2 separate regions of the Homo sapiens genome follow, and region 2 is linked to region 1. The links come from fine-mapping of genetic effects on gene expression. A gene starts in region 1. The other region holds a variant in brackets. All regions are shown on one strand. Distances are from middle to middle.

The links.
Region 2: its variant is fine-mapped to the expression of USP11 in tibial nerve (GTEx, PIP above 0.99).

The regions. Positions count from the first base shown.
Region 1 is chrX:47,231,470-47,234,381 of GRCh38, reverse strand. It overlaps USP11 (ubiquitin specific peptidase 11), which reads right to left and starts at 1,373. Exons shown (of 21, transcript NM_001371072.1): 1 at 1,163-1,373. The coding sequence starts at 1,338. RefSeq lists enhancers at 435-1,018, 1,444-1,493 and a cis regulatory region at 496-1,718.
Region 2 is chrX:47,324,746-47,327,657 of GRCh38, reverse strand. No RefSeq gene overlaps it. Among named protein-coding and RNA genes, the nearest start is that of ZNF157, 44 kb to the left of the region's middle. The variant A/G (reference allele first, on the strand shown) is at 1,301.

The DNA.
Region 1 (2,912 bases):
TAATCTTATGATAAAAAATTGATTTTTAAAATAATTTTTTTTTCTGTTCCAGGATCCAATCGAGGATCACATGTTGCATTTAGTTATCATGACTCGTTAAATTGCATTAATTCCTTCAATTTGGAACAGTTCTTCAGCCTTTGTCTTTCATGATCCTGACATTTTTGAAGAGTGTAGGCCGTTTATTTTAACAGGATGTCCGTCAATCTGGGCTGCGTAAATGTTTTATATAATCTTTTTAAGTCTTACGTATTTCACAATTAAAAAACGAGATGCAACTCGGCGAGAAATAAAATGAACTCAGAAGCAGTAAATTTCAAGAAGGACTGTTTAGCAAGAAATCAGTAAAACAAGCCGATTTATCAAAATTCTATTTTTTAAAAAAACGACTTTTTCTTGATTCTAAAAACAAAACAGTACCAACACAGAAAACCAATTAAACATGGAAGGCCCCTCCGGTGCTAATCACCTGCACGTTCTCTCGACTCGGGAAGGCTTCCGCCAGAATCAAAAACCACGGCGCGTCATAAACTTTGCTTATTCGCAGGCGCCATTTTCTGCCTCATAGGCACCACCTCCCCTCCACTGTCGTCCCTCGGCCTCAGAGCACGCCCCTCAGCTCACGTCACCAACCTAACCTCGTTCCCAGGCTCCAGGCTCCTCCCCCCTCCCCCACGGAGGTCCCCGCTCCCTCCCTCGGACCGTTCGGCTCCATCCCGCTCTTCTGCTGACGTCACAAAGCTCGCCTCGTTCCCAGCCGCCCCGGAGCAATCGGAAACCGCTCCTCGCCCCCAAAAGTTGCATTACGCAGCGCAGGCCGCGCCCCCGCCTTATGTAGCAGAACCCACCTTCTTCCCAGGTTCCTACGCAGTTTCACTACGCAGGCCCGGCCCCACCTCCAGGACCGAAACTGGTCTCATCACAACAAACCCCATTTTGTTCTCAGGCGTCAGACTGCACCACACAGGCCCCGCCCCTTTTCCAGACGTTGCGATTCATTCAAAGGCACTTCCCCGCCCCTTTAGCCCGCTGTCCCGCCGGCCACTCCCCCGCCCCCGCACCCCGCAGCAGCTTTCCCGCGGCCCTCGGCCGCCGAATCCCCAGCGGTTGTCAATGCCCCCACCGTTCCCTCTGCCGAGGCTCCACCGCAGCCCAGCCTCACCAGCTTTCGCCGGCCCGCAGTGGACGTTCTCGCCCACTCTCGCCGTTTTCTATCTGGCGCCACTGGCTGTCCAGGCCTGGCAGCTCCTCGTGCTGTGGCTCTCTATCCTCAGTCACCGCCGCTGCCGCCGCCACAGCCGCCGCAGCAGCAGCTGGATTTGCTGCGACCGTCGCCATCGCCGTCCGTTCTCTTCTACAGCCAACGCAGCTGTGCGAGATTGGAAGACGCCCCTCAACAGCCACTTCCGGATTCTGGTCCCGGAAACGGAAGCAGAGCCCCCCAAACAGTCGCGGGGCTACTGCCATATTGGAAATGGCCCCGTGCACAGACGCGTCGAAGGGCTAGGTGGGGTAAAATCTTCAGTGGGAACCAAGAAAGACAAAAGTGCCTTGTGGGGTCCTAACGCCCTGTAGACTTAGGGCACAGGTGGCATGGAAAGTGGAGGCTGAGGTTCCCGAGGTGGGCTAGGACTCCTACCCTGGGAGCAGTGTTTTTGTTAGCCTGATCAGAATGCCCTTCATTGTACCATCAAAACCCAATGCAAAAGAGGTTTCCACCTCCAGAGACCCACCGAGGCCTGCGGGCTGTTGTTTCTCTTCCTGAACTAGATTTATTCACTAGACAAGGTGTTGAAGACAAGTTAGCCCCAGGCCCTATGTTTGTTGGAGTCATAGCAATCATAACTAAACTAGCTGTCCGCCCAGTTTAAGTGCTTTATTGGACTAAAATAGTAGCCTCAGGCAGCAGGTACTGTCCTTGTCACCCATGGGTAACAATGGGGACGCTGAGTACCAGAAACGTCCCTCAGCTAATTAGTGGTGGAGCTGCAGTTTAGACTTGAGAAATCTGGTTTCAGAGCTGTGACCTTAAACACCAGGCCAAACATTCTCCAACCGTGTGGTCCCAGTGGTCCCAGCCTGTCTACCGGTCCAAAAATCCTCTTGGGGTTTCACAAAATGAAAACTATTTTCACAATACTTTTTCACTCTCATTCTCTCAGGGGTGTACAGTGTGATTATCCAGAGGCTTCTGAATCCAGAGGCTATATGACATAAGCAAAAACTCTTTTGAATATCTTAAACTTTTAAGAACATAAAGGAATCCCGAGACCCAAAGTTTGAGAACCCTTGGACTAGGCCAGGGTCTCTCAACCTCAGCACTGTCATTTCTTTGTTGTGGGCATTGCAGGATATGTAGCAGCATCCCTGGCCTCTACCTACTAGATACCAAGTAGTACCCCTCAGGACAACCAAGTATCTCCAGACATTACCAAATGTCCTTTGGGGGAAAAATGTCTCTGGTTGAGAACCACTGCTCTAGGCTATGCTATTCTTTCCTCTGCTGGGGCTGCCAGCCCCGTTGATGATGACTTTAATTTCGAACCTCCCTTCCCCCTCACAATTTCATAATTTACCTATTTTCAGTTAATCTCTGCGGGGCAGGGATTGTGTCTTTATTACTGTGATTCCAGCCCCCAGCCCAGACCTGGCATAGATGAGGGGTCACAAACTCAGTTGTGTAAGCTCTGGGTGAGGAAAGGGAGCAGGCCTTTCACTTAAGGGTCCCCAAAGAAAGTGGCATTTGAGTTGAGTCAGACACATGGCAGATAGCTGCTCTTCAAGCCCAGTTGAATCTTGTCAGATTCTCTGAATTGATTCTCCCCATTGCCCCTCTGCAGACTCCCCCTCCCCATTTATCTGGGCAGCCAGGTAAATCCAAGAGACCTCCTTTCCCAGCCCTAGACCGTTTT
Region 2 (2,912 bases), 93 kb before region 1:
TCTGGTATCATGCCCGTGGTCAAAGCAACTAACTTCTGTGGCTACTAGAACTTTCTTCCTGCTTTTCTCACTCTGCACTTCCTGCTGCTGTCAATGAAACTCAGCTTCTTATTCCCAGGCACTCTCAGAGTGAGGATCCATAGGAGGCTTTGATTCTCAGGACAGATAACCCCATCTTTCCTCTGGTTCTGACCTATTTTTCTGTGTCCTTGTTACTGTGGTCATACCCAGAGAAGTAACATTTTGTCTTGAATTTGTAAAAATCTCTACCTTTCCCCACAAAGGGATTTCAGCACAGTGGCTATTTTAACAGATACCATGCAGCACGTACCACACGTTCCCTTCCTGAGTCCTTGAAAGTAATTTTCAGCTTTTGATCGGCTATATTGTTCTTCCCAGCTACATTTTGGGAAGTCCAGCAGAATAACTTGCTACTCTTTTAAAGGTCCTAATGATAAAACGAAACAAAACATCCCCTTTTTATCATCACCCACAAAGCCCTAATGCGTGCAACAAAGATTGTGAAACGTCCAGGGAACAGTTTGTGAGACAGAAAGGATGGCTTTGTTGATTAGCAAAAAGCTGGAACGTGGACACTGGCAACACAACAGGATTGGGACCCGCCTTCTTCAAGTGAAACAAAGTTGGAATTATTTTCAATTTTAATGTTAAACGGTTTTTTTGTTTGTTTCCAAATTATTTGAAAAGTTACTAATCCAAGCGTGGTATGAGTGGTATCATTTTGGTAACTAGATTAATGCACTACCAGATCCTAGAATTTCCCACTTTACCAAATAAAAGTATGTTCTGTGGAATTCTCCTAGACCAAGACAGGCTTTTCCCCTGAGCAATAGTGATAAAGTTGTCTAAATACATGAACTGGTGGCATTTTTCAAAAAGTAATAATGTTATAATCAAGAGGTGGTGTTGCTATGTTGCCCAGGCTGGTCTTGAACTCCCAGTCTCAAGTGATCTGCCAGGAGGCTGAGATGGGAGGATCATCTGAGTCTGGGAGGCCAAGGCTACAGAGAGCTGAGATTGCATTGCTGCACTCAAGCCTGGGTGACAGAGTGAAACCTTGTCTCAAAAACAAAACAAAACAAAACAAAACAAAACACTGCCACCATGCCTGCCTAATATTTTTATTTTTATTTTTGTAGAGATTGAAGGGGGTCTCACTATGCTGTCCAGGCTGATCTCAAACTCCTGAACTCAAGTGATTCTCCTGCCTTAGCCTCCTAAAATGCTGGGATTACAGGCGTCTTTAAGTGCTGGGGGTCGGCATATTTAAAATGAACAC[A/G]CTGCCTATAATCCCAGCACTTTGGGAGGCCAAGGCAGGTGGATCTCCTGAGGTCAGGAGTTCGAGACCAACCTGGCCAACATGGCGAAACCCTCTCTCTACTAAAAATACAAAAATTAGCCGGGCATGGTGGTGGGTGCCTATAGTCCCAGCTGTTTGGGAGGCTGAGGCAAGAGAATCGCTTGAGCCCAGGAGGCAGAGGTTGCATTGAGCCATATCGTGCCACTGCACTCCAACCTGGATGACAAAAGGGAGGCTCCGTCTGAAAAAACAAATAATTAATTAATAAAAATAAAATGAACACACTGTTTTAGTTTAACAGACTAAAGAGGTGCAACCGTATGGAATAAATGAGCCTGGACTTAGTCTTGTGTTTTAAAAAAGTTATAAAAGATGTATGGGAGCCGGGCGCAGTGGCTCATGCCTGTAATCCCAGCACTTTGGGAGACCGAGGGGGGCGGATCACAAGGTCAGGAGTTCAAGACCAGCCTGGTCAACATAGTGAAACCCTGTCTCTACTAAACATACAAAAATTTGCCAGGCATGGTGGCACATGTCTGTAGTCCCAGCTACTCGGGAGGCTGAGGCAGGAGAACCGCTTGAACCCGAGAGGTGAAGGTTGCAGTCAGCCGAGATCTCGCCACTGCACTCCAGCTTGGGCAACAAAGTGAGACTTCGTCTCAAAAAAAAAAAAAAAAAAAAAAAAAAGATGTATAGGACAACTGGGGAAAATTAAATATGGACTGGATATTAAGCAATATTAGGGAAGTATTTAGAATATTAGGGAATTATTTAGAATTATTTAGAATTGAAAGGTATTACTGTGTGCAGCTAACTTTCAAATGGTTTGGGGCTGGACGCGGTGTCTCACGCTTGTGATTCCAGCACTTTGGAAGGCCAAGGCAGGCAGATCACCTGAGGTCAGGACTCTGAGACCAGCCTGGCCATCATGGCATAACGCCATCCCTATTAAAAATACAAAAAATTAGCTGGGCATGGCGGCGGACGCCTGTAATCCCGGCTACTTGGGAGGCTAAGGCAGGAGAATCACTTGAACCTGGGAGGCAGAGGTTACAGTGAGCCGAAATCGCACTATTGCACTCCAGCCTGGGTGACAGAGCGAGACTCTATCTCAAAAAAAAAAAAAAACAAGAAAGAAAGAAAAATAAAAATAAAAAGGCCAAGTGCAATGGTTCACGCCTGTAATCCCAGCACTTTGGGAGGCTGAGTCAGGTGGATCACTGGAGGTCAGGAGTTCGAGACCAGCCTGACCAACATGGCGAATCTCCATCTCTACTAAAAACACAAAATTAGCCGGGTGTGGTGGCATGCACCCATAATCCCAGCTACTTGGGAGGCTAAGGCAGGAGAATCACTTGAACCTGGGAGGCAGAGGTTGCATGCAGTGAGCTGAGATTATGCCACTGCATTCCAGCCTGGGTGACAGAGCAAGACTCCATATTAAAAAAAAAAAAAAAAAAAGAAAGAAAAAGAAAAAGAAAAAAAGAAAAAATTATTAATGACTTGAAATCCTACCACTGTACAGTTAGCACTACACACACACACGTAATTCTACCAAAGTGGATCATAATATTTATGCTATTATAATGAT